4 linked regions of the Homo sapiens genome follow. The protein of the gene in region 2 interacts with the protein of the main gene of each other region in a biochemical or structural test. Each region holds a gene or a part of one and is shown on either strand. Other genes may lie near its edges. The genes, in order: SKP2, CDH1, YES1 and MYO6.

What was found.
Region 1: of the proteins of CDH1 (region 2) and SKP2, one has a biochemical effect on the other in vitro, tested with the Homo sapiens proteins (one study listed by BioGRID).
Region 3: the proteins of CDH1 (region 2) and YES1 form a complex in vitro, tested with the Homo sapiens proteins (one study listed by BioGRID).
Region 4: the proteins of CDH1 (region 2) and MYO6 form a complex in vitro, tested with the Homo sapiens proteins (one study listed by BioGRID).

Annotation. Positions count from the first base shown.
Region 1 is NC_000005.10:36,162,081-36,169,114, reverse strand, and holds part of SKP2 (S-phase kinase-associated protein 2), read right to left. Parts: intron 5,471-7,034; coding exon 5,359-5,470; intron 2,597-5,358; coding exon 2,453-2,596; intron 803-2,452; coding exon 668-802; intron 1-667. UniProt on the Homo sapiens protein: Substrate recognition component of a SCF (SKP1-CUL1-F-box protein) E3 ubiquitin-protein ligase complex which mediates the ubiquitination and subsequent proteasomal degradation of target proteins involved in cell cycle progression, signal transduction and transcription.
Region 2 is NC_000016.10:68,817,258-68,824,291, reverse strand, and holds part of CDH1 (cadherin-1 isoform 1 preproprotein), read right to left. Parts: intron 5,013-7,034; coding exon 4,867-5,012; intron 2,292-4,866; coding exon 2,067-2,291; intron 1,844-2,066; exon of another isoform or gene 1,060-1,843; intron 894-1,059; coding exon 666-893; intron 1-665.
Region 3 is NC_000018.10:809,217-816,786, forward strand, and holds the start of YES1 (tyrosine-protein kinase Yes), read right to left. Parts: upstream 3,027-7,570; 5' UTR 2,898-3,026; intron 1-2,897. UniProt on the Homo sapiens protein: Non-receptor protein tyrosine kinase that is involved in the regulation of cell growth and survival, apoptosis, cell-cell adhesion, cytoskeleton remodeling, and differentiation.
Region 4 is NC_000006.12:75,885,239-75,892,238, reverse strand, and holds part of MYO6 (unconventional myosin-VI), read right to left. Parts: intron 6,236-7,000; coding exon 6,145-6,235; intron 5,396-6,144; coding exon 5,245-5,395; intron 2,183-5,244; coding exon 1,974-2,182; intron 1,012-1,973; coding exon 933-1,011; intron 1-932. UniProt on the Homo sapiens protein: Myosins are actin-based motor molecules with ATPase activity. Unconventional myosins serve in intracellular movements. Myosin 6 is a reverse-direction motor protein that moves towards the minus-end of actin filaments.

The sequences.
Region 1 (7,034 bases), on a different chromosome or scaffold from region 2:
GGCGTAGGGGCCCATTACAATCTGGTCCCTGACTCTCCTCACCTTGTCACTCTCCTCCCTTAGTCCTGTGCTCCAGCAACTTCCAACTACGTAAGAGTTTAGAACCACACAGGAAGTTTTACCTAGACTGGTTGCTTTGTCTTATTACCTAGAGATCTCCTACCTAGATATCTTCAATACTCAAGAGTCACTTCCTCTAACAAGGCGGCTCCTCGTGTGTTGCCACATATTCACTGAAACATTTAATAAACACACTGCATGGTAATTATCTGTCTTGCTCATAAATAGTTTACCTTCTTGCAAGAGAAAATAGACATGTCTTGCTCAATGTTTCCTCTTGCAAGAAGGTAAACTATAGCTTAACCAGCATTCACTAACAAGGTGGGAAAAGTTTTAGAGCATTCATTTTCTTCCCAAATAATACACATGCATTGTTCATCCTTGTACTTGTATCTCTAGAACCTAGCACAGGGCCTGGCATATAGTTAGCATTCAAGCTTTTGTTGCTTCAATGAGTCCTGAAAAGTTTTGCAGAAGCTAGAGCACTGCACTAGATATTTTCTGTATCCACCTGGATATGGCTAGAAGGGCACCCCAGTTATATACAGGGAAAAAAATTCATACACATAAAATCAACTGCCTTTGTGACACTCTGCCTGCCACTCACTTGACAATGGGATCCGAAAGCCGCAGGCCTTCCAGGCTTAGATTCTGCAACTTGGAACACTGAGACAGTATGCCGTGGAGGGTGGACACTTCTATAACTGAGTTCGATAGGTCCATGTGCTGTACACGAAAAGGGCTAAACACGGAGAGAAAAAAGGAGCTCCATAGGTGGCTCTCACGGGTACATCCAATTTCAAACCAGACCCCTCTTCTCCCCAAATGAGCAGCCAATCACAAACAAGACTCTAAATACATACTTCAAGCATTAACTATAGGGTCATAAAACATATTGCTACTAGTGTATTCCCATCTTCATTCATTTTAAAATGCAAGAGGATTTTTGCCAAGTACAGATGTTGCTGCCAATATAGTCCCACTTAGAAAATAACGAGTGGGCATCACAACAATGAGCTGGATGTGGGTGACAAGGAGATTAAGACCATAACGGCTCCTGGTTTCTGGCAGGGGTGAGTGGGTGAGCAGCAATAGAACAGGGAAGGTAGCGGAAGAGAAAGTTTTAAAGGGAGACCAGGCTGGGCGCAGTGGCTCACGCCTGTAATCACAACACTTTGAAAGGCTGAGTCCAGTGGATCACGATGTCAGGATATCAAGACCAGCCTGGCCAGCATGGTGAAACCCAGTCTCTACTAAAAATACAAAAAATTAGTTGGGCGTGGTGGCGCACACCTGTAGTCCCCAGGTGCTCGAGAGGCTGAGGCAGAATTGCTTGAACCTGGCAGGCAGAGGTTGCAATGAGCCGAGATCACGCCACTGCACTCCAGCCTGGGTGACACAGCAAGACTCCGTCTCAAAAAACAAAAACAATAAAAAAAAAGGGAGGCCAAATTTGAGTTATGCTAATATTGAAGTCCTTGTAAGAAATTCAGGTACAGACGTTTTTAGGTAATTAGAAATTTGGGAATTTGAAAGGGAGGGCCAAGCTATAGATGAGGAACTGAGAGTCCTGGGCATAAATGTGGGTGTAGAGGACACAGCTTGTCCAGGGACAGCATTTGGATTTGAAAAAGGTGGCAGCCAGGAACCGACCCTGGAGTGAACAGAGGAAATCACATATGTGAAGGAGACTGAGAAGGAACAGCCACAGGAGGAACAGGATAAAAAGCAGTGGGAGAGGCGGTCCTGACTACGGAAAGAAGGGAAAAAGTACTGGAGTCAGGAGACATGTTTTATCTTTAGCTTTGTTGTCTTCAGCTTGTTTTTCTGTTCAGTACCTAGTTATTCTACTATGTGATAGCAGTAACCTCAGTATTGCAAAATTATCAGAACAGAAAATTCTTTTTCAAAATATTCTACAAAACAAACAAAAAGAGGGCATTTTTTTCAGGTTCCAAATTTCTCCAAGACAAAAATCATAAACCCCAAGCTACAAACATGAAAAGACTCCTCACTTTTTTTTATTTATCAGAAATGGGCATTGGGGAAGTAACTGGGCACCCTTGCATCTGCCAGTGAGTGCTTTACTTGTGCCTGCCTTGTGGGACTCACAGTCCCCCTATCAGCTGAGGACTTGAGAAGACAAATGTGCCTCTTTCACCCTGGGAAGAGACTAACAGTAAACTTGAGTGAAATGGGAACAGTGTCATTGAAATCTATGCTAGGTTTTAGCACAAAGGCCCCATAGCAAAGTATGGAATTAACATCCCACACTGCACAGATAACCTACCATAGGCTTTAAGGCTGAAGAAAGAAAAAAAAAAAAAAAGCTTTGATCTGTTTCTACCTCGAAATTTAGAAATAGTCTTTTCCAGGGATTTTTCATCTTTACCTGAAATGTTCAGCCAATGGTTGGTCCATAAATGATCGTGGGCAGCGGAAGGCAATCACCCCTTGAGACAGCAACCGACCAGTCACATCCGGGTGCAGATTTTTACCTGTGAGGTCTAAGGTCTGCCATAGAGACTCATCAGACCTATAAAAGAGGAGATACTTAATTTGGCCAGTCGGTCACACTAAATGCTGGAAGCCCTCAACAACATTACTAACAGGTAGGACACTGCTGCTAAATCTCCTTGAAGCATATTCTAAAAGAACTTTTGTTTTTAAGTTGGCTATACAATTAGCTATGATATTTTTAAGGCACTAGAGAATTTTTCTTGATTTCACCAGGGATAAGCTTCCATCTTTCTCTTTCTATATACTTCCAATTTAGATGGTTCAATGTGAACATTAGCACTGCCGTGATCTAGAACCAGAGAATCATATTCCAGCATTCAAGTTGACAAATTTAAAAAATGATTGCTCAAATCAATTAATTATTATATTACTAGGCAAATAGGATCCTCTAAGAAGTTTTAAATCTATTTGACACTTTTGTCAAGCAATTATGATTACTGTAGCAACATGGAAAATTACTAAAGGAACGAAAGTTAGCATTATTTTATTATGAAATAAGGCTGTCATAGATATTCAATAGCAACAGTCATGGTTCAGCTGTGCCTTATAATATATTTGAAGCTTAAAACATACACGTGTATATGTATGTGTACATATGTGTGTGTATGAACTAATGTGAAATAAGGGAAAAATACAACGGATTATAGATGGTGTTTCTAAAACAAAAGGGATGTTCTAAAAACGTACTGAATAGCACAGTAAGAGGGTTTTAATATCCATAGTTTAATTCAATTTAAAAAAAGAAAATGTGAAATATAAGCACATGAAGGAACATTTTAAATGCTTAGGTGTACTAGAATTTTCTTTTTTAATAGTGCTTGAAATAAGTGGACCACTGGCCAGAGTTATGAAATAACTTCATCATAAAAAAATTGTCAGTGTGATTTGTGTGACAAATCTATCATTAAAAAGGTGGACTGTAGATAAGATATCCTTAAGAGAGTGGCACACTTTTGTATCTTTCTTGCCCAGACAGAAATCCATTTTGGCCTCCAAGGTATTGGTATTGACACCAGATCAGCACTGCTCTGGTTGTCTTGAATCTCATGCTTGATGTTTCCTCTTGCAAGAAGGCAAACTATAGCTTAACCAGCATTCAATAACAACAACCTGGGAGAAGTTTTGGAACAATTCATTTTCTTTCCAAATAATATACATTTTTTAGGAAGATGAACACCTCACAGAAAAATGAATTTGGGAGCTACCTGAACCCTAAGCCAAGCATAACTAGATATGGTATGATGGTTAAGACCGTGGAGTTAGCCAAACTTTAGATTCCTGCCTTTCCACTTATCTCTCAACCTACTATTCCTGACCCTGCAGTTTCCTCACCTCTGAAGCTGAGATGACACAAACACCATCACTTAAAATCATATGGAGGATTAAATTGCAAACACTGCACCTGTCACAAAGCAAGTGCTTAATAAATGTCAGTAATTACTTTTATGACAACTGAGATGAAGTTTAACAGACTCTAAGGGAGATGTAGGTCAAAGAATACAAAGCCACAGATATGCAGGATGAACACATCCCAAGATATAGTATACAACAGGAGAACTAGAGTCGATAATACTGTATTGTAGTCAGAATGTTTGCTAAAAGAGTAAATTTTAGGTGCTTTTGCCACAAAAAATAGGTAACTATGTGAGATAATGAATATGTTAATGATAGCAGCCATTTCACATACTTATAACAAAATATCATGCTGTATACCTTAAATATATACAATAAAATTTTAAAATGGGATTAACAGACTCTGCAAGAAGAGGATAAATGCATAGCTGGCAGAAAAAGAAAACCAAAGTGGGGTTGAGTGCGGTGAGGGTAAGTGAAACTTGCCTGCCACTTGCACCAGCATTCCAGGTGTGCAACCCTCTCTGCGGCTCTTCTAAGCAAACAACCCACACCTGTAAATAGCAGCACGCCCTTGAAGGCAAGAGGCTCCTGCTATCTCACACAGGGAGTTCTAAGTATGTGGAGGGAGAAGCCAGACGGATGGCCTTTAAACACAAAGCAAAGAATGACCAGGAGGTAGGATAGGGATGAGAAGGCATGAAGATAGTAAAAAGTTCCAGTTGATAAACATAGCCTTTTTCTTGCTCCAGGCCTGTTATTGCCTTTCCAGCTCACCAAGTCTTTCCACATGCAACTCACCTTCCACACTTGAAAAGTGTTGCCAAAAAAAGAGCACAACCCCACCAATGGCTACTCTGTGTGGAACATGTCTGTGAGTCAGGCATTACACCAGCATCTTCACATTTCATCCTCATAACCAGTGGTTTCCTCCTCATAACCATTATCCCCATTTACATATGGGGAGACTGAGGCTCAGCAGTGTCAACTAACTCACTCAGGTCATGCAGAGCGTAAGCAGCAGAGGCTGGGTGTGCACTCGGGTCTAACACCAAGCCTGTGTTCCCTCTCCCTATTGTGCTCACTGCTCAGCCCAGCGGCGTGAGGAACCGCTGTCTGCATGCACCTCTGTAACTCTCTCCGCACTTAAAGCACACCGCCTGGCCTACAGTCAGCATCCCATAAACACATGCTGCACTGAATACAGGGCAAAGAGGTTTCCAGACATTGGTAAGTTTATCCCTCCCAGGAAATTCCTCTTCCACTGTGAAATGAGGACACTGATTAATAAAAATATGAAGATACCTAGTTTGCTTTGCGCTGCTCTATTTTTCTTGGTTTTTAGTTTCATCAGACCAAAACGAATAAATAACCTTCCTCTCCTCTTCCTCCCCTACGTTTGCCAAAGGGGTGAAAAATACTTACGCTAGGCGATACCACCTCTTACAAACACCAGAGACCTTTAGCAGCTCAGGGAGGCACAGACAGGAAAAGATTCCCAAGAGCAGCTCATCCGGAAGGGAGTCCCATGAAACACCTTTGGAGGGAAAACAAGTGTTTGCCATCACCATTCTTTCACCCTATCAAGTCTACTGAGTCTTTTCAAACACATAAAGAATATACAACATTTAGCTTAAATGAGGAATTTAGCACAAATTAAATTACTCATCCTCACAATTATTTTTGTTTGAAAAATCATTTCTGTTGAACAGAAAAATAATTGTGGTGATGAGTAATTTAATTCGTGTTAAATTCCCCATTCCATCATCTATGTACCCTGAAGTGACCACCACACTCTCTCAGCAAATCAAAAAGAGAAACCCAGAACACTTTTCCTATTCTTCCCTTCAGCTCTAGCCAGCCAATCGGAGGCTGTGGCATGAAGAGTGGTACAGAGCAAGTCCCACCCTCTCAAATGTCATTCAATGACATTGTCAATTCATTGACATCAATAAGATATTGTGGTGCTTCTGGGTGCAAAGGAAGGCCTTGTTTCTCTCTGATGTGGACTCAGTAGTGACCTTATTTAAAAGGCAAATAAATCTTCTTCCCTTTCTGCTATGGTTGGCTGTGTCCCCACCCAAATCTCATCTTGAATTGTAGTTCCCATAATCCCCATGTGTTGCGGGAGGGACCCAGTGGGAGGTAATCAAATCATGGGGACGGTTACCTGGTGATAACCGCCCCTGTAATTTGATGCTGTTCTGGTGATAAGTGAGTTCCCACAAGATCTTATGGTTTTACAAGTGGCTTCCCCGACCCCTTTGCTCTGCACTTGATGCCGCCATGTGGAGAAGGACGTTTGCTTCCCCTTCCACCAAGCTTGTACGTTTCCTGAGGCCTCCCCAGCCAGGCTGAACTGTGAGTCAATTAAACCTCTTTCCTTTATGAATTACCCAGTCTTGGGTATGTCTTTATTAACAACATGAGAACAGACTAATATGCTTTCTTTCAGGTTTACAAAAGGCACAGTTTACCTAAAAGAGCAATACAAAAGGGTATTGTCATTTCTTAATTCAACAAATATTTACTGAGCTCCTACTATGGTGCCAGGTATCATTTTAGGTGTTGGGAAGGAGTAGTAAATCAGACCCAAAACACTACCTTCGTGGGACTTCATTCCAGTAATGCGGAACAGATAATCACACATCAAAAAATAAGTACATTATATGATATAGTAAAATTGATCTGTGCTGTGCAGAAAAATTAAACAGGGCAAGGGAGAGAACAGAGAGTTCAGAGCAGATGTTATTAAGTTTGAACATGGTGGTCAGGGAAGGCCATACTGAGATGACGATCACTAAGCAAAGGCTTGAACAAAGTGAGGGAGTGAGCCCTGTGAGTATCTGGTGTACGTGTTCTAGATCCAAGGAACAGCATGTGTGTTTGAGGCATAGCAAGGAGGCCAGTGTAGAGCGCAGAGGTAGGTGGGTAGAAAAATCAGAGAGCAGCCAGGTCATGCAGGCTTCCTAGGTCATGATAAAGCCTTTGGCTTTGACGCTGAATTCTATGAGGCACCACTAGAAGATTCTGAGCACAGGAATGACAGGCCCTCACGTAAGTTCAAAAAGGATCACTCTGGCTGCTGTGTTTAGAACAGA
Region 2 (7,034 bases):
GGTGCGGTGGCTCAAGCCTGTAATCCCAGCACTTTGGGAGGCTGAGGCGGGTGGATCACCTGAGGTCGGGAGTCTGAGACCAGCCTAACCAAAATGGAGAAACACCGTCTCTACTGAAAATACAAAATTAGCTGGGCGTGGTGGCACATGCCCATAGTCCCAGCTACTCAGGAGGCTGAGGCGGGAGAATCGCTTGAACCTGTTAAGCAGAGGGTGCAGTGAGCTGAGATCACACCATTGCACTCCAGCCTCGGCAACAAGAGCGAAACTCCATCTCAAAAAAAAAAAAAAAAAAAAAAGAAATGCAGAATCTGTGGCCCTATGCCAGACCTCCTGGATCAGATTTCCCAGTTCAAAAAGAGGCCCAGATGATTTGTATGCTCTCAAGCTTGGGATGCACTGTCTTGAAGAATGAAAAGAGACAAGGTAGAAGAAACCTGGGTCCCCTGTTGACTTCATGGCCTTCCCATCTTAGACCATTTACCTCTGAAATGTTCAGTAAGAGACAAACTTCTATTTTATGGAGGCTGGCATAACTTGGGAGTCTCTTTCCCACATCAGCTAACCTATATCCTTATTAATATAAGAACAAAAATCATTTCCAGGAAATAAACCTCCTCCATTTTTTTAAGTCAAAGGCTGAGTCACTTGCCAGCTGGACTTACTTAGCAAAGCAAGAATTCCTCCAAGAATCCCCAGAATGGCAGGAATTTGCAATCCTGCTTCGACAGGCTGTGCCTTCCTACAGACGCCAGCGGCCCCTTCACAGTCACACACGCTGACCTCTAAGGTGGTCACTTGGTCTTTATTCTGGTTATCCATGAGCTTGAGATTGATTTTGTAGTCACCCACCTCTAAGGCCATCTTTGGCTTCAAAATGATAGATTCTTGGGCTGGAGAAAGCAATAAAAAGAAATGATGAGACCAGGGGAGGAAAATAAAAAGCTCATTCCAGAATAAAATTGCTAGTGAACTAAAGACACCCGCAAGCCGAGTGAAGAGAGCAGAGCTGCTTGGGTTTTATTTAGGTATGTACTTTTTTTTTTTTTTTTTTGCTGTAAAAAGCTTTATTTCCATTTGGTCTAAGGCTTGGGAGAGGGCTCTAGAGTTGGTTTAAAAAAGCTGCCTAGTGGCTGGAGGGAGAGGCTTAGGCAGAGCGGGGCTCTTCAGATGTCGCTGGGTTCGGTAGGCTCCCGTGTGCCTGAGGGTGAACCTTTTTGCCCAGCCCGGCCTGGAGGCCGGCTGGCCTGTGAAGGTTGGTCAGGTGGTCACCTATCTTCTTGATGAGTTTTACTTTTTCATCTAGGAAGTGGCTCTCCAGGAAGTCACAGATATGGGGGTCTGTGCAGGTGGAACCCAAGGCATGAAGATCCAAAAGGGTCCAGTTCAGGTTCTTCTCCAGGGCCAGAGTGACTTCCATCGCACCCAGGGTTTTACCCCATTCATCTTTACATGGCTTCTGGATGTCCGGGAAGACAGTGCGGCCGCCACACTGGTTTTGCATTTTCAAGGGACACTCAGCGCCCTTGTGCTTCTCCTTGGCCAATTTGTGGAAGAAGTGGTGCACACCTTCCAGATCCACATCGTCATGGTGGAAATAGAAGCCCAGAGAGAAGTAGGTGTAGGAAGCCCATATATGCAAATTGACCAGGCAGTTGACAGCTGCCTCCACCTCGGTAGAATAGTTCTGATGAATCTGGGAGCTCACGATTGGTTGGCAAGAAGGAGCTAACCACAAAAATGGTGTTGTTTGGTCCCAGGAGCAGGAGGTAGCAGAGAAGATGGTCCTGGTTGCAAGTGGAGAGGGGAGTGGAGGGTGGCTAGAGGCTGGGAGAGGGAGCCCTGCTTGGGTTTTAGATTACTGGGTAGCATGCTACAAAGTTAGATACCAGGAAAGGAAAAAGACCTTTGGAGCAAGGCCTCAAAGACAGAAGGGACAAGGAAGCAAGTATCAATGGAAGGGGTGACATCTAGAAGTTGAGAAGGGAAATTGAAAGGTGGGGATCTGGGGGAAGGGAAGCATGGCAGTTGGAGCAAAGTTGCCAAAATAAAACTCAGGTACCCACTTGGGTCGTTGTACTGAATGGTCCAGTTGGCACTCGCCCCGTGTGTTAGTTCTGCTGTGAAGGGAGATGTATTGGGAGGAAGGTCTGCATCAATGATGTTTATGACCTGAGGCTTTGGATTCCTCTCACAGAAGAATATAGTTCGAGGTTCTGGTATGGGGGCGTTGTCATTCACATCAGACAGGATCAGCAGAAGTGTCCCTGTTCCAGTAGCAACTGGAGAACCTAAGAGAAAATACACAGAAAATGTGGCAGCTTGGCAACAGTAATGAATCCCCATTGCCTTCCACCAGACCAAGTCTAGATCTTGTCCTGGCTCTTCAGTGGTCCCTCACCAGGCCCCACTCCACCCGCAGAACCTCCTGTCCCACCAATCCCAAAGGACCTCCACTCCCAGGTGGGCAGGTCTCTGGCCGTTTTACACAGACAACTTATTCCCACCTTGATAACAATTATTCAAGTTATTCCTCACACCAAGAACACACTCCTCCTTCTTCACATATCGTTATTCATTCACTGAATTTTAACTACTCCAAGAAGTCCTATTGCCTGCCTGTTGTTTCCCTAGTTCTCCTTTTTCTGCACTTTCCTGCCATTTGAGGTCATTAACAAAGCATTGAGTCTTTTTATTTATTTTAATTTTAAGCCTGACTAGAAGCTTAAAATCAAAGGGGATGAGTTGGGTCTTTTGAAGTCTCTGCAAATTGGTTTTCAAAATAGATTGGGGAGTTCACATACGCTTTTTTTTTTTTTTTTGAGGCAGAGTCTCACTCTGTCACCCAGGCGGGAATGCAGTGGCATGAACACAGTTCACTGCAGCCTCTACCTCCTGGGCTTAATCTCCCACCTCTGCCTCCCTAGTAGCTGAGACTACAGGCGCATGCCACCATGCTTGGCTAGTTTTTAAATTTTTTTTGTAGAGAGGGGGTCTTATCATGTTGCTCAGGCTGGTCTTGAACTCTTGAGCTCAAGTGATCCTCGCATCTTAGCCTCTGAAAGTGTTGGGATTATAGGCGTGAGCCACTGCGCCCAGCCCATCCACACTTCTGTTTGCATTTCTTTTATATCTTGACACAACACGGAGCATATGGTAGTAGGAAAAATTGGTACCCAGGGAACTATCATCAATATTAGTATACGATACGGATACAAAACAACAGAAGAATCCATCTCAAACCTATAAATAGATATGTCTAGATGGCATGACTGTAAATTTTTAAAACTTTTTTCTCATGTAAATTTTATTTTTTAACAATGAGCACACGTCATTTAAAATTAACTCAAGGAGGCCAAGCATGATAACTCATGCCTGTAATCCCAGCATTTTGAGATTATGGGCAGTATGTTGCCCAGGCTAGTCTTGAACTCCTGGCCTCAAGCCATCTCCCACCTCAGACCCCCAAAGTGTTGGGATTACAGGTGTGACCCTAGCACCCAGCCTATAAATGTATTTAAATACACAGAAGCAGTCTGGAAGGACCCACACCTAACTGATTTAACACCTAACTAATTTCACCCACATGGGTATTAACATTTTTCAGGTAAAGGAATTGAGGGACATAAAAATTAAACAGCAGGCCAGGCACGGTGGCTCACACCTGTAATCCCAGCACTCTGGGAGGCCAAGGTGGGCAGATCACAAGGTCAGGAGTTCAAGACCAGCTTGGCCAATATGGTGAAACCCCGTTTCTACTAAAAATACAAAAAATTAGCTGGGCGTGGTGGTGCACACCTGTAATCCCAGCTACTTGGGAGGCTGAGGTAGGACAATTGCTTGAACCTGGGAGGCGGAAGCTGCAGTGAGCCAAGATTGCACCACTGCACTCCAGCCTGGGTGACAGAGCAAGACTCTGTCTCAAAAAAAAAAAAAAAATTAAACAGCAAATCCAAGGTCACACAAGTATTAAGCTTTGGAAATGGATTGTAAACCATCATTACCTGGTTCCCTTAGGGAAGGAATAAAGAGTGAGTAGTGAAAAGTAAGTTCTGTTTGACCAAAATTACTTGAAAAAACAATTTTTTTTTTGGAGACAGAGTCTTGCTCTGTTGCCCAGGATGGAGAGCAGTGGCGCAATCTTGGCTCACTGCAGCCTCCACCTTTCAGACTCAAGCAATCCTACCACTTCAGCCTTCTGAGTAGCTGGGCCTACAGGTGCTCACCAACACACTCAGCTAATTTATGTACTTTTTGTAGAGACAGGGTTTTGCCATGTTACCCAGGCTGGTCTTGAACTCCTGGGCTCAAGTGATCCTCCCACCTCAGCCTCTCTAAGTGCTGGGATTACAGGTGTGAGTCACCGTGCCCAGCCCACTTGAATTTTTGATAATAAGAATGCCTTTGTTTAAGAATAAAAGAGAAATCTTTTGCAGCAACATGGATGAAACTGGAGGCCATTGTCTCAAGTGAAACGAATCAGACATATAAGGAGAAATACTGCATGTTCTCACTTAGAAGTCGGAGTTCGATAATGTGTACACATGGATGTAGATTGTGGAATGATAGACAATGGCAGCTGGGAAGGGTCCAAGGGGTGGGAGGGGGTAGATGATGAACAATTACTTAATGGGTACAATGCATGTTATTTGGGTGACGGATACCCTAAAAGCCCTGACTTTACCACTACACATCTATGCATGTAACAAAATTACCCTTGTACTCCATACATTTATACAAATCAATCCAGCAAACAAAAAGGATAAAAGAAAAAGAATGAACTCTTCCCTCCAAAAGAAGGGAGGGGCAAGGAACTGAACTAGCTAGGAGGTCGAGGCAGCAAAGGCTCAGATGAGGCCCCCTTACCATTGTCTGTAGCTATGATTAGGGCTGTGTACGTGCTGTTCTTCACGTGCTCAAAATCCTCCCTGTCCAGCTCAGCCCGAGTGGAAATGGCACCAGTGTCCGGATTAATCTCCAGCCAGTTGGCAGTGTCTCTCCAAATCCGATATCTGAACGGGGACAAGCTCTGGCTTTTAGAATAGGACCAGCAAACAACATGTAGCTGAAAACGGCTTAAGCGCTTCTTCAGTTATATGGTTACTTCCAACGTTTTTATTTTGAAAACCAACAATAGGCCGGTCGCGGTGGCTCATGCCTGTAATCCCAACACTTTGGGAGGCTGAGGTGGGCAGATCACCTGAGGTCAGGGGTTTGAGACCAGCCTGGTCAACATGGTGAAACCCTGTCTCTACTAAAAATACAAAAATTAGCTGGGTGTGGTGGCACACGCCTGTAATCCCAGCTACTGGGGAGGGTGAGGCAGGAGAATCGTTTGAACCTGGGAGATGGAGGTTGCAGTGAGCCGAGATTGCACCACTGCACTCCAGCCTGGGCAACAAAAGTGAAACCCTTTCTTTCTTTTTTTTTTTTTTTTTTTTTGAGACGGAGTCTTGCTCTGTAGCCCAAGCTGGAGTGCAGTGGCGCGATGTCGGCTCGCTGCAAGCTCCACCTCCTGGGTTCACACCATTCTTCTGCCTCAGCCTCCGGAGTAGCTGGGACTAGAGGCGCCCGCCATCACGCCCGGCTAATTTTTTTGTATTGTTAGTTGAGACGCGGTTTACACCGTTTTAGCCAGGATGGTCTCGATCTCCTGACCTCATGATCCGCACGTCTCGGCCTCCCAAAGTGCTGGGATTACAGGCGTGAGCCACCGCGCCCGGCCGAAACTCCGTCTTTAAAAAAAAAAAAAAAAAAAGAAAACCAAGAAAACCAACAATACAACAGACAAGTTACTATAATAGTATGATGACCATCCATGAACTCTTCACCTGAGTTTACTCATTGTTAATACTTTGCCACATCTGCTCTGTCTATATTGACACACGCCTACATAATTTCTTGTTCTGCTGAACCATCTGCAAATAAATTGCAGAAGTCATGTTCCTTTACTTATAAATATGTCAATGTGTTATCTCCTAAGAACAAAGGCATTCTGTTATATAACCCCAATTTGATTTTCTTTTTTTTTCTTTTCTTTTTTTTTTTTTTTGGGACAGAGTCTCGTTCTGTCGCCCAGGCTGGAGTACAGTGGCGTGATCTCAGCTCACTGCAAGCTCCACCTCCCAGGTTCATGCCATTCTCCTGCCCCAGCCTCCTGAATAGCTGGGTCTACAGGCACCCGCCACCACGCCCGGCTAATTTTTTGTATTTTTAGTAGAGACGAGGTTTCACCATGTTAGCCAGGATAGTCTCGATCTCCTGACCTCAGATGATCCACCCATCTCGGCCTCCCAAAGCACTGGGATTGCAGGTGTGAGCCACCGTGACCAGTCTTGATTTTCAATTTTAGGAAACAAAACTTTGATAGAATTCTATTGTCGAATATATGGTGCATATTCGAATTGTCAGATTTTCCAAAAATGTCCTTTATAGCAACCTTGCACCCTTCTGGATTCAGGATCCAATATGGCCTTTCGTTGGCATGGCTCTTCCTTAGGTCTTTCTTTTCTGTCACTGACATTTTTGAAATGTGCTGGCCGTTGTTTTGTAGCATGCCCCTTAACTTGGGTTTGTCTGATTATTCCTCAAAATTTAGATTCAGGTAATCCATTTCAGGGGTCGGTGGGGGCAAGAACAGGACAGAGGTGATGCTGTGGCCTCCCTAGTGCAGGACACTGGGAGGCACATGATGTCTGTCTGTGCTTCTATTGATAACTTTGATCACTTGGATAAGGGAAAGGCCACCAGATTTCTTCACAGCAAAGGTGCCTTTTTTCACTGCATGATTAACCTATAATCTGCAGGTAGATAATTTGAGAATATCTTGTTCAGCAACTAATTTTCACCCAATGGATTTGGCATCTGTGGATGATTCTTGCTGAAGCAATGATTACTATAATCCTTATTTATTTTTAAAAGCAGACTCCTGCAGACCAGCTCCCCCAAACAATACAGTAGTTCCTAAATGGTGGCAACATGCCACCTCCTCTCCTGTCATGAACATCTGGAGATGCAGGTTGCCCTGTTGACCT
Region 3 (7,570 bases), on a different chromosome or scaffold from region 2:
CAATTAAGTTATTAAAGAAAACGAACTAGAACTTTATTTAGAAATTTTTTCCCAAAAATTCTCTAATTATTGTACATTTCGGAGTATTTGACTTTTTTTTTTGGAGACAGTCTCACTCTGTTGCCCAGGCTGCAATGCACTGGCACTATCTTAGCTCACCGCAATCTCTGTCTCCCGGGTTCAAGCGATTCTCGTGCCTCAGCCTCCCAGGTAGCTGGGATTACAGGGGCGCGCCACCACACCCAGATAATTTTTGTACTTTTTAGTAGAGATGGGGTTTCACCACGTTGGCCAGGCTGGTCTCAAACTGCTGGCCTCAAGTGATCCCCTTCCCTCTGCCTCCTAAAGTGCTGGGATTACAGGTGTGAGCCACCGTGCCCAGCCTGACGTGTTCAAAGTAGTTATACATACAGCTGGTATATGACAATTATGATTTAATAAATCTAATCCTATTTGCAAAGGATAGCCTAGGTAGTGTTCGAAAGTCAGCCACCAAGTTATGTTCTTAAACCAAGCACCTTATATAGACATTACACACTGGATTCCTTAAAAAAACAACAACAAATTCATGTAAAATAAAACATAGAAACAGATTCTGCACACAAACGTAGGGCTTAATGAATTACACTAAGACCAATACCCTTGGTAACTCCTACCAGGTTAAAAGAACTTTGTCACCACTTCAGAAGCCAGGTCCCTATCACAATCTCCTCCCTCTTCCCATATATTTCCCTTCATAGAACCACAGGTATTCTATGCTTCTATTTTTACGTTCACAGAATTTCCTTGCAGGTTTTTTTTTTTTTTTAATTACCCAAGTTTGGGTGACCCCAGCGCTTAGCATCACTTAAAAAATTGTTTTGGCATTAGTCTTCTTTCTTACTATAATGCTAATAGAATAAACGATGTCTACACTGATTTTGTAAAGAAAAACTAGCCATAGTAGTAAATCATTTACTGTCTAACATGATGCAAATTTCAACTTTGAATAAGTAAGTCTTACACCATCGGTTGGTAATATTTCACTTATACAGGTTTACTTCTAGTCTTTTAGCACATTTATTCTTTTATCAATACATACCATGAAGAAATTTTACTTGCATAGACATTAATTTTTCAGCTTGTGAATTTCCTGAACTAAAACACACACACAAAAACAGCCCATGTATTAATATTATACTTCGACCACAAGACAAATTCCACCTAACCCAGGAAGACAGGTCAAAGCTGTAATTTCACTTTCAGATGAACAGAAAGGAATCAATTTTGTGGTTTATGAAGTCAGCAAAACCTAACTACGAAATTAAAGCCATTATAACATTACAGTGGTTACAACAGAGTATATATTTTAAGAGCCCTTTTATCTTTTATCCTGGAAACATGGATATAAACTGTTTTGTTTTCAGATCAAAGGCAATTGTCTTTTTCAAATGTAGGACCCTCTGAATTGTCAACCAGCATTTAAAATCTCCACCGACTTTTAGCTAATGTCCAAAAATAAAAATACAATTTAACTTCCTTTCCTTACATGTCAATTGTGGCAGGGGTCTCACACTTATAAGCAAACAAACAAAAACCAAAAAACCATATATATTATTTGCTAAAGTAAAACTTTCTTACTGTACAATATATGAACATCGTAAGTGATGCATACAAGATCCTTGGCTAATACAAGATACTCCTTTATTACCTGACCATTCAAAATGCTTCCTGTCCACCGTGTGCCAAGCACTGTGATAGTTAAGATATTAGATTTACCATGCACTTTTCCTTAAATGCACAGTCACGTGTATACATTTAGTAATACTTTCCTTAGTGCGTAATTTAACTTTAGAAGTGTAACAGGATGGTTTAAATATTTAAAATTATCAAGGTATCTTTGGCACTGTAATCTTACAGTTATAATACATGAAGATACTATAATCATATCATGTGAAATCGACTGTGAAAACACACACCCGTGGAACGTATATACATAATAAATGGACATAAAATTGTGCTTCCACCAAAGACTTTCATTATTTCCTTTAGTAATTTATAATTATACAGTATGTTATTCCACGCCTGTATCAATTAATTATGCAGAAAATGATTCAACCAAATCCGAACTGTTAAGTCCTACTCATTACAAAACAAAAACTAAAGTCCCTACACCAGACTTGATTTTCAAAGAGCTTCTTAAAACAGCTCTGCCCCATGCCCAATAAAGTGAAAGCTGGAAGCAATTATCAAGAAGAAAAACACACTTTAAGACAATTTTCTTTAACACATGTGGACAGGGAACCGAACGCAACGGGAGGCGGAGTGGCATGATTCCGTAAAAGTGGACGCTGAATGGTAAATTTCCCAACCCCCAACCCAAAACAAAGGAAAACTTTAAACATGTTGCGGTTTTCAATCAAACCAAGTAAAGCCAGAAAGGCTCATCCACTCGCCCCACACACCCGCTCCTCTCCCCGCACAGCTGCTACCGGCGTCGGCCGATACACAGACCCCCAGCCTTTAGGACCCAAAGGGGCCGCTTCCCTCGCCCCTACTTCGGCCGTAGGGGCAAAAATAAACCTCTCCTCCCCGTCGCCGGGCGGTCCACACGACCCCAAAGACAAGGGGTGGGGAGTGTCCCCACGCCCCTGGAACCTCAGGTCGGACTTGGGCGGGACCCGGCAGGTCTGGACAGGGCAGAGACCGAGTCAGGGGCGAGCAGGTAGCGCGGGGAACGAGACAAGCCCGCCGGGCGATCCGGGGGAGGGGAGAAGTTTCTTCCCAACTTCCCGACTCGGGCCCGCGGGGGCGGGGAACCGCGGCGGCGGCGGCGGCGGCGGCTCCGGGCGCTGGGGCCTAGCCCTGTCCGGGCAGAGGTGGAACCCTCCGCCCGCGGGGCCCCACCGGGTCCTTACCTGTCCTCCGGCCGCGCTCTCATGAGTCGCTGCTACCGCAGCTCGAGGTGGCGGAGGGCGGAGGCGAGGCCCGCGGGCCCTCTCCCTCCTCCACCTCCTCGTCCCGGGGCGCCCGGCGGCAGCAACGACGGCAGAGCCGGCCCGGGACGCGTTACTTCAGGAGGAGGGAGTTCCCGGGCTCCCCACGCCTCGGCCTCACTCTCCACCTCCTCCGCCCCCCCCCCCCGGCCCCGCCCCCTGACTTCTAGCGGGGGCGGGGGCTGCGGGTACCTGCGCGCGCCGCCGTCCGCTCACCGGAACTCGGGCCACGCCGGCCCGGCTCCGGGGCCCCCAGCCTTCCGGCGCCTACGCCCCCGTCAGGTCCCCTCCGCGGGCTCCGGGCCGCTTTGCTGTGGTCAGGATAGGCGACCGGTCCGTGTCACTTCTCCCGACCCAACATGGCGGCGGGGTCCGGGGCGGATTCCCGGGGGCGGTGCAGGCCGAGGGGGCGTGAGGAGGAGGTGCTTCCCTGCCCGGAGAGCAGGCCCGCGGCGTCCCTTCCCACCCGCGAACCCACCGACGCTCGGCTGCCGCGGAGATTGAATGGAGCGCTCCGATTCTGCCCCTCTGCCTTTCTCTGTTCCTTGGCCCAGCTCTCAGTAGTGGCCAGGGCTTTGGGGCTTGCTTTTGTGGGGGAGGACGGGGTTGAGTTTTTTTGGTTGGCTGTTTGCTTCTCAGCGCTACGCTTCCGCACCCTTTGTCGTTGGTAGTAAAATCTCAAGCCCAACCGCGTGAGCCGGGGGCGTTACTCACACCCTCATCACCATCCTGATCGCCGTCCAAAAAACGTTCACGTCTTGCCTCCTTCCGAGGCAGGGATCCTGTCCCTGCCCCCAGGAGCTTCCTGTTGACTGTAGGTCGAACCAGCCTTGCCGGGAGGGGAACCGAAGCTGAGTTCTGTTTGGCGACTATCCCAGTCATGGTGGCTTTGGCTTATGTTGGGACAGCGTTTTTCTATATGATGCTGGCGGCAGCCCAGTGAGGGAAGTGCAACAAGTATGGTTCTCCTGCTTGTCAACTGTGGAAACAGCGACCCTGAAAGTGGAGGAGCCACAGCTGGAATCGTGTCCGTCTGAATACACGCACCTTTCCTATGAGCCTTGTAAAGCCAGTCGTTGAAGAAGGGGGAGGACCCGGAAGGATGGGGTGGGGGCGTAAAGATGAAGGTTAATCAAGGTCCTCATGGACTGAACCTTGAGGCCCTTCTGCTGCAGTCACTTTTGCCCTATCAGACTTTTAGAGTAACTTCCTCTCTTTATTTCCTCTTTGGTGGGGTTATCAGAATTATTTTGTGACTATTGGTTTCCTTTGCGGTTTTTAGTGAAATTCAGAATCATCTTCGACGGATAGGAAATAGTGCAATCATATGTGTCAGTATTCCGGTATTCTAGGAACTTAAGGAAATGCATATAAGGGTTTGAACATTTTTTTCTTCAGCTCACTAAATGAACGAAAGGTAGGCGTAGGCGTTAAAGAGACACATAATGTGGAACGATGCTGTATTTTCTTAGCTACTAAAACTTCATTTGTCATTGACTGTCTCAGGGCTTTAAAATTTTATGTAGGTCTATATTCAGCTTTTATTAAAATAGAAAATTCCTTGAGCTGTTGCCTTTCTTCACTAAATAGAGATAATTTCGTCTTCCTAAACACTCAGTCTCAAAAATCACCTCTAAAATAGGCCGGGCACAGTGGCTCACACGTGTAACCCCAGCATTCTGGGAGTCCAAGACAGGAGGATCACTTGAGTCTAGGAGTTGGAGACCAGCCTGGGCAACATGGGAGACCTCCTATCTATTTAGTAAAATATATTTTAAAAAATAATAATGAAATGAAATAGTAGTTTGCCCCAGTTTAAGGGGTAAGGTGGCTTTGAAGATGTTCTATATGGAGTTTTAAAGTTGGGAGAGTATGTCAGAATGTCACCTACAAGTTATGGATTACATTGACTTACTGAGTTTGCTTCTCTTCGCCCTCCCTTTTTTTTTTTATTACTACATTCCCTGATTTCTTTTTTAGTATATTCATCAATGTCAAACTTCAGTCTGTAAATAACCTGGAAAGTTTTCAATCTTACATTTAGTGGCTCACTTGTTTCCAGGAATATTTTTTAAAAAATTTTTTAATGAGGAAGAGAAAACTGGAAAGTCTTACTGAGTTTGGTGTAACAAAAATTGCTTTTAATCTGTTCATCCTGAAACGGACAAATAAGCTTGCCCCTACTTTTCCCTCCTGCACAGCATAGAGGTGTGGTATGTACATGTGTGTTAGGGAGTGATAAGGAACTTAAGTCTTGAAACCCCTGGAAATGTCTGCTGGAGGAAAAAGCTAGGGGAAAGCTTTAAACAAACAAACTTTATGAGATATGTTAGGTCCCTATAAAAGTAAAATGCTTTCATTTATGTAAGTTGATTAATGCTTAAAATTATTTGGCTGGAAGTTTGAAAAGCTGAAAGTTGAACTAGGGCCCACTCAGTACCACCTTGGAACCTGTGATTCTACCAGGAAATGTTTTTGTTTAGGGTAAACCTCTCCTACGTGCTATCAGTGATATGCTGCTGCTGCTGCTTCCGCCACTGAGGCTATGATGATTTTCTCTTCCTGGTAACAGTAAAAAAGCCTGCAGCCCTACACAAGGTGCCTCTTTTCTAACAACCATCCCCTCACCACCTTCCTCAAATCCATTCAGTGCCTGACATTGTCTGCACCACCTTAGCTTTGCCGCCTCCACCTGGCCAAGACTGCTCCTATGCCCAGTTAGGAAGAATATGAGAACCCCTCTCTAAGGATTAATTTGGAAGATCAGGAAAAAGGAAGGTATTTCTCCTTGAGTGTTGGGCCTATTGTGCCAAGCTCAGTGGAGAAATGCACCAACTCATCAAGTTCTCAATGCTCCTGATGTCTTCATTGCCTCAAGGACTGTGGTTTCTATATTACAGTTTTATTTCCCCTCAACTGGGAAAAGACTGTCTAAGCGACCTAAGTAAATGTATATTGAGGGCCAGGCGCGGTGGCTTAGCTTGTAATCCTAGCACTTTGGGATGCTGAGGTGGGTGGATCACCTGAGGTCAAGAGTTTGAGACCAGCCTGGCCAACATGTTGAAACCCTGTCTCTACTGAAAAAAAAAAAATACAAAAATTAGCCAGGCATGGTGGCATGCGTCTGTAATCCCAGCCACTCGGGAGGCTGAGGCAGGAGAATTGCTTGAACCCCGGGGGCAGAGGTTGCAGTGAGCTGAGATCATGCCACTTCACTCCAGCCTGGGTGAAAGAGCAAAACTTCGTCTCAAAATAAATAAATAAATAAATAAATAAATGGATATAGAAGGACATATCCTGCAATGAATATTTGTCAATCAAATGTGTCTTGCAATTAATAAATGTCAAACATGGCAATCTTACATGAACTTCAGCAAGTCTGTCTCCATCTTGCTCCCTTTTGTTGCTCTCTCTAGCTTTTCACTTCTTCACTACCTGGTTTACAATCTTAGAATTTAACCCTGTGCTGAGTATGCCTTCTCCGCTCCAGAACTATTTTCTGGCAGTATAGTCTTTGCTACTGGAATCTACTTTGGGGACATCTCTTGTTTTATTTCTGACTTCAATTCTTTCTAGTTCTGCAGCTTGACCCAGGCCTGTTTTATCTACCAAAGTCCCTGGTTTCAGCTCTAGCTTCTGGTACCACTCTGCTTATTCCTAGGTAGCTTTACCCACAGCTTCAGACTTTCATAGGCTCAGCTTGGTTTCTCACTCTGTTTGGTGACAGCAGTTTCTAGGCCAGATGAGCACCTTACATCCTCTTACATGCCCTCTGCCGAGTAGAATACAGCCTGTAGTGGACACCTCTTGAGGGTGCCTGTTTAACTCAAGTTCCTCTTCTCTGAGAATTAATTCTTCGATAGGTGGCATGTAGGCCTATGATCTGAGTACTGCTAATCCCAGGTTCTAGGCTGAAAGTTTGAATTTTGAGGAGTAACACAAAAGTAACTCGGTTAGTGATTATTCATGGTAACCATGGTGGAGTTGAGTCAAATGACAGAAGATGAGTGTCCAGGGGTAGAGGATTCCAGTGCTGGTGGTGCCTGCGTCATGAGCATACCATCCCCGTGGCAGAACCTGGACTTTGTCTTGCCTTCCTTGCTTCCTGCCTGAGCCTGCTCCTCTAGTCTTCCTGTTGATTCTCACCATCCTCCAATAAATTCCCTTTATGCTTCAATAGAGACCATTTTTGTTCTTTGCAAATGAAAACCATTACTTAGTCTTTGCTACTTACTTGTGCAGCCAACAGTAAACTCAGGAGCTGTGAGGGTGGCATCTCCTGCCACGTGCTTGGAGAGGCAGTGGGAGTGGGATGGGGAATCCAGTTTTCACAGAGGATGAAGCAGGCACAGCCAGAGGTGGGAGATAAGAGATTGTGGGACCCCAACACTGAGACTTGAGACTTGTGACTTTTGTCACATAGAAGACCCCAAACCTAGAACAGAGCTGGCAGGTCAGTCTCTCCTCCTGCTTGCCCATGGCAGTCATGGCTTTTAGACCATGGCATAGCATATACTCTCCCCCAGAGCATTAATACCATCCTCAGAATCCTCAACACAATTCAGGCAACAGCCACTGCAAAACTGGAGTTAGAA
Region 4 (7,000 bases), on a different chromosome or scaffold from region 2:
GGCATCCCATTAACACTAACACCTAGAGAGCAGATGTCAGGAATTTAAAGTTTTGGTTATGCTTAGGATATATTATGAAAGCCATGACAAACAGAAATTCAAATACATGAGCAATTTATTCTCAACATGGGACTTTTTAAAAACTAGGGGTGGAGAGAGACTCTTAATCCTAATTTATTAATTCCAGTATCTACAAAGTTATATGATATTTTAAAACTTAACATTTTAAGTGAATTTTCATTTGACTTTCCCCTAGGTATAAAAACAATTATTAATATTTATTGATCTACACAGTGTTCACAATGCTTTAACATGTATTAACTGTCAAATGCTTGCAACTATTATTTATCCACATTCTACAGAGAGACAACTGTGACCCATAGTTCCTCACTATAATGTGTACAATGTCACAATTTCTGTCAGTGACTGATCTTGGATTTGAACCCACTTCCCTAGCTCCAAAGTCCATTCCCATAACCACTTCAAAAACTGGCCTTTGGTCTCTAGGATAAACTAGTGACAGCTTATCTAGCAAATCAAGATCTCATTTTCACTTCTTTCATAGGTTCCATTTTATTTTATTTATTTTTTATTTTTTATTTTTTTTGAGATGGAGTCTCGCTCTGTTGCCCAGGCTGGAGTGCAGTGGTGTCATCTTGGCTCACTGCAAGCTCTGCCTCCTGGGTTCACATCATTCTCCTGCCTCAACCTCCCAATTAGCTGGGGCTACAGGTGCCCACCACCATGTCCGGCTAATTTGTTTTCGTATAAGTAGAGATGGGGTTTCACCATGTTAGCCAGGATGGTCTTGATCTCCTGACCTCGTGATCCGCCCGCCTCGGCCTCCCAAAGAGCTGGGATTACAGGCATGAGCCACCACACCCAGCCTGTAGGTTCCATTTTAATAGAAATTCAACCCAGTAAGTACATACTTGAATGCGTTTTTCATCATCTTCCCTTTTCTTTCTCTCTTCTTCTTCTTGTTTTCTCTTTGCTTCCATCTCAAGTTTCCTAATAAAAAATAGAAAACTCTTCAAAAATTTAACAGAAAATAAAGAATCCTTCAGAAGGCAATTTAACTATTATTTAATAATAAACAAAGGTAACAGATTGGGAATGCAAATTAACCTCCTGGCCACATACATCAACTTATTTTGAATAAAATAAAATTTAACTCTATTGACAATAATTCTTAAATAAAACAAATATAATTATATTCTATAACTTTTAACATCTCTAGATGAATGTGGTTACAAAGCCTGGCTGTAAGGTCCTGATTAAAGGTGCTTCCCTCTAGTCCCTCTCCAAGTCAACAACTCATCTGTTCTCTCTACCCTATCATGGCAATCTTTCAAAATGTTATCAGTTTTAAAACTGCAGAAAAGTAGAAGTGTCATTTATCTAGCTTAGAAAACAATAAACAAATCATAGTTTTAAAAAGAAGAAAATCCTCAGGTGTAAGAGGCTAACAAATTCAGATTATAGTTAAAATTATTTTATGGTATCACTATTATAAAATGACCTTATTCTCTCAATTTTCAAACTTATTACAAAATTAGTTCATTAAAATAAGAACACAGTTTTAAGAATTGTCAACCGAGCACGGTGGCTCACGCCTGTAATCCAAGCGCTTTGGGAGGCCGAGGCGGGTGGATCCCCTGTGGTCAGGAGTTTGAGACCAGCCTGGCCAACATAGTGAAACCCCGTCTCCACTACAAATACAAAAATTAGCCAGGCGTGGTGGTGCGCACCTGTAATCCCAGCTACTCAGGAGGCTGAGGCAGGAAAATCGATTGAACCCGAGAGGCAGAGTGCAGTAAGCCAAGATCGCGCCACTGCACTCCAGCCTGGGCAACAGAGCAAGACCCTGTCACAAAAACAAAACAAAACAAATAATTGTCATTAACCACTGTCAATACCAAGAATTCACTATTTCTTTAAGTCTCTTATTCAAAATAATATAAATGCCTCACATCCGCCTTTCCTCCTCTTCCTTTCTTCGACGTTTTTCGTCTTCTTCACGTCTTTTTCTTTCCTTTTCCATTTCTTCTTGAATACGCCTCAGCCTTTCTGCTTCCTCTTCCTGCTGTTTTTTTTTCTGTAATGCACTGAGGAGTTCCTCTGAGCTTTTAACCAGTGCATCATATTCTTTCTGGATTTGTTCCTGCGTCATCATAGTGGACTTTAAAAAATAAAATAAATAGGTACGTAAAAGCTTATTTCTTCTGTTGCACAACAATGTGAATATACTTAACAATACTGAATTATAAACTGAAAAATGGCTAAGATAAATTTTAATGTTTTTATTGTTTTTTACAATTTAAAATAAAAAACTACTCCAATATGCAAATACAGCAAAAACTAGGTAAGATGGTAAGCAATACGTCCGTTATCTTTACTATACTGTTTGTACATTAAATACTATTCAAAAAATGTTTTATGTTATCTCTGCACACAAGTATTACACATCAATTAGACAGGTAATCTGTGGATAAGGTAATATACTGCAGTTAAAAATTATTTCTAGGCCGGGTGCAGTGGCTCACACCTATAATCCCAGCCCTTTGGGAGGCCAAGGTGGACAGATCACCTGAGGTCAGGAGTTCGAGACCAGCCTGGCCAACATAGTGAAACCCTGTCTCTTATAAAAATAAAATACAAAAATTAGCTGGGCATGGTGGTACACACCTGTAGTCCCAGCTACTCGGGAGGCTGAGGCAGGAGAATTGCTTGAACCCGGGAGGCGGAGGTTACAGTGAACCGAGATCATGCCACTGCACTCCAGACTGGGCAACAGAGCAAGCCTCTTATCTCAAAAAGAATTATTTCTTAAGTAATGATCAGCTAATTTAGCAATAGTTTACTACTATTTTAGAATAATGTTCAAATAGTACCTAGAGAATATTTTAAAAATTACAAAATATATCCAAAATTATTGGATTTCTAAAATTAGCCTTCAAAAAATGTGGGTGGGTTAATTTTAATTTATAATGATACCACATAAACAAAGATGGCCCTTGACAGATTTATAAAATCAGCTGAGTCTATTTATAGCATTTTCATTTTCCTCCAGATCTTTTTTTTCCTTTCTACCTCCAAGATTGCCATTGTTTACATAAAATATCTGCAGAAAATATAAAACGCTCACTTTAAGATATTCATTATATCCCACATACTTGCACTGACCTATGAAACTGAGAAAAAGCATTAAAACTCTAAAATATAATGAGAAGATATGAAATGTAATTAATGAAATATGAAATATAATTAACAAGCATATAGAAAAGTCTTCAACTCCACTAGTAATCAAATAAATAAAAATCAAAACAAAATAAGGGATCCCATTTTTTTCCTACAAAATTGGAGAGGAAATTGCTATTTTCACAAAATTAATTACATTATCGTATCTATGAAGATAATGTATTAACATGGACAAGTATATAACAATGGTAGAGATAGAAATTGAAATGTATATTATGATAAGAACTGTAAAAATGTATGCATAAAAGAGAATGTAAGGTAAAGTAAAAACAAGTAAAATTATACTGTAAAAATAACAGTAACTAACTGAATTTGTTAATGTGGAGGTATTAAGAGGTTTTTGGTGGTTTCTCCAATTTTTTTTTTTTTTTAGCCAGGGGTCTCACTGTCACCCAGGCTGGAGTGCAGTGGTGCAATCTCTGTTCACTGCAACCTCCATCTCCTAGGCTCAAGCAATCCTCTAACCTCAGCTTCCTTGGGACCTCAGGCTCATACCACCATGCCCAAATAATTTTTTGTATTTTTGGTGGAGACAGGTTTTGGCCATGTTGATCAGGTTGGTCTCTAACTCCTGAGCTCAGGTGATCCCTGCGCCTGGGCCTCCCAAAGTGCTGGGATTACAGGTGTGAGCCATCACATCTGGCCTCCAAATTTTTTATAGTATTATATTACTTTTATCATTTATTTATTTATTTTTAGACGTAGTCTCACTCTGTCGCTGAGGCAGGAGTGCAGTGGCACAATCTTGGCTCACTGCAACCTCTGCCTCCTGGGTTCAAGCAATTCTCCTGCCTCAAGTAGCTGGAACTACAGGCGCGTGCGATCACACCTGGCTAACTTTGGTATTTTCAGTAGAGACGGCGATTCACTATGTTGGCTGGGCTGGTCTCAACCTCCTGACCTCAAATAATCCGCCCACCTCGGCCTCCCAAAGTGCTGGGATTACAGGCAGGAGCCACCATGCCCCACCACTTTTATTTTTATTTATTTATTTTTTTTGAGACGGAGTCTTGCTCTGTCACCCAGGCTGGAGTGCAGTGGCGCGATCTCGGCTCACTGCAAGCTCCGCCCCCCCGGTTCACTCCATTCTCCTGCCTCAGCCTCCCAAGTAGCTGGGGCTACAGGTGCCCCCCATCACGCCTGGCTAATTTTTTTTTTTTGTATTTTTAGTAGAGACAAGGTTTCACCATGTTAGCCAGGATGGTCTCAATCTCCTGACCTTGTGATCCGCCTGCCTCGGCCTCCCAAAGTGCTGGGATTACAGGCGTGACCCACCGTGCCCGGCCATTTTCTTTTTGCTCCAACTTTAGTTTTCTTTTTTCATTTTTTTTTTTTTTTGAGATGGAGTCTCACTCTGTCACCAGGCTGGAGTGCAGTGGCACAATCTTGGCTCACTGCAATCTCCGCCTCCCAGGTTCAAGCGATTCTCCTGCCTCAGCCTCCCAAGCAGCTGGAATTACAGGTGCACGCCACCACACCCAGCTAGTTTTGTATTTTTAGTAGAGACAGGGTTTCACCATGTTGGCCATGATGGTCTCGATCTCCTGACCTCATGATCCGTCCGCCTCAGCATCCCAAAGTGCTGGGATTACAGGCATGAGCCACCATGTATGGCCTCCAACTTTTATTTTAATTTCAGGGATGCACGTGCAGGATGTGCAGGTTTGTTACACAGGTAAACGTGTGCCATGGTGGGTTTGATGCACAGATCATCCCATCACCTAGGTATTAAGTTGCGAGGGATATCTTTCTTAGCAACAGAAGAAATGGCATAAAAATTGTCTTCTTTAACTTTTTGCTATGAAATTTTTCAAACATAAAGAGTAGAGGTAATAATGATGAGCATGTACTTGCCATCATTGAGTCTCAACACATTTTGTAATTTTGAAAAACTAAGGACGTTTTCTATACAATTTCAATACCAATAACAAAATATATTAAATTACATAAAAAGTCAAAGTCATTCGGGTTGAAATTACATACCTTAATTTTGGCCATCAAAGTATCAATAGAAATTTCCAGATTCTTGATCTGTTTATTCATCTCGGGTTTTCCATCTTTCAACACACTGACTACCTCATTAAATTTATCAAGTCGTTTTTTCAGTGTGCCCACCTTAACCAGACCATCAATGCTGTAAAAATAATACTTCATTAGAGCTTAATTTCATCCTTTAGTACTTTTGGCAGATTTTTCATTTATAAAATGCTAAACAGGGTATTTCACTTCTGTTTTCAATATTATCTACTATTCTCTTTTTCAGATCTCTTGTTGAAGGCTAAAAAAAATCAAATATGAGTGTGAATGACACTGATGCCTGTCAATGGGATTAAAGCCTTCTACAACTTTGAGAATTCAAATCACAGAGGAAATTAATCTAGTCTCTTTGAAAAGGTGTGATGGATCAATAGAGATATTCAGACTTCCAATTTTTAAAAGTGTAAATTAAAAATGAAAGATTCAAATAAGAAATACACTAATTTATAATGGGACAATGTAATTCCTACAGATAATCTTGAAAATTATGTAAACATATTAGTGAGATGTTTTTTAAAAAATGTCACCTTGACATTATCAAGAAACTCAAATAACTAAAATAATCAGAATAAAAGAGCTTCTCTCAACTACTTACTTCTTGTTTTATAGTCTTTACACATTTTTGTATGCCACTTCAAATCCTTTTATAGAATGAGGCAAGTAATAAGGTAATAAATGAATTAACTAACTTCAAATAAATATTACAAATAAAAGACTAATACATCATTTTACAAAGAACATGAGAAAACCTGAGTATCCAAACTGCTTTTTATTATGACTTTATTGTCATTTTGTATTACAGTAACTAGGTTTTGTAGAGTTCTTTTTAGGAACTATTCATCTTACCGAGGTTTGTGTCTCCTCTTGCAAAGCCACATTCGAATAGTTTTTTGCATTTTAATGCAGGCTTCAGCTCGATATTTTATTTTGTTTTTCACTATGTGTAAGAGTAAAATAAAATGATAGAAAATTATTCAGTTTAAATCTAACATATATTAAAAAAACTCATTTTCACAAAGTAATGCTCAAGAAACATGAAATCTTGACGACCATATTATTATATATCAGACATCAAAAACAAAGTTTTAACACCTTTTTTGTTTGTTTTTGTTTTGACAGTCTCAACCCAGGCTGGAGTGCAATGGCATGATCTTGGCTCATTGCAACCTCCACCTCCCAGGTTCAAGAGATTCTCGGCCGGGCGCGGTGGCTCACGCCTGTAATCCCAGCACTTCGGGAGGCCAAGGCGGGCGGATCGTAGGGTCGGGAGATTGAGACCATCCTGGCTAACACGGTGAAACCCCGTCTCTACTAAAAATACAAAAAATTAGCCAGGCATGGTGGCGGGCGCCTGTAATCCCAGCTATGGGAGGCTGAGGCAGGAGAATGGCGTGAACCCGGGAGGCGGAGCTTGCGGTGAGCTGAGATCGTGCCACTGCACTCCGGCCTGGGTGACACAGCAAGACTCCATCTCAAAAAAAAAAAAAAGAGATTCTCATGCCTCAGCCTCCTGAGTAGGTGAGGTGGGACTACAGGCACACACCATGCTGGGCTAATTTGTGTATTTTTATTCGAGCCAGGGTTTTGCCATGTCGGCCAGGCTGGTCTTGAATTCCTGACCTCAAGTGATCCTCCCACCTCAGCCTCCCAAAGTGCTAGGATTACAGGCGTGAGCCACCACGCCCAGCCAGTTTTAACATTT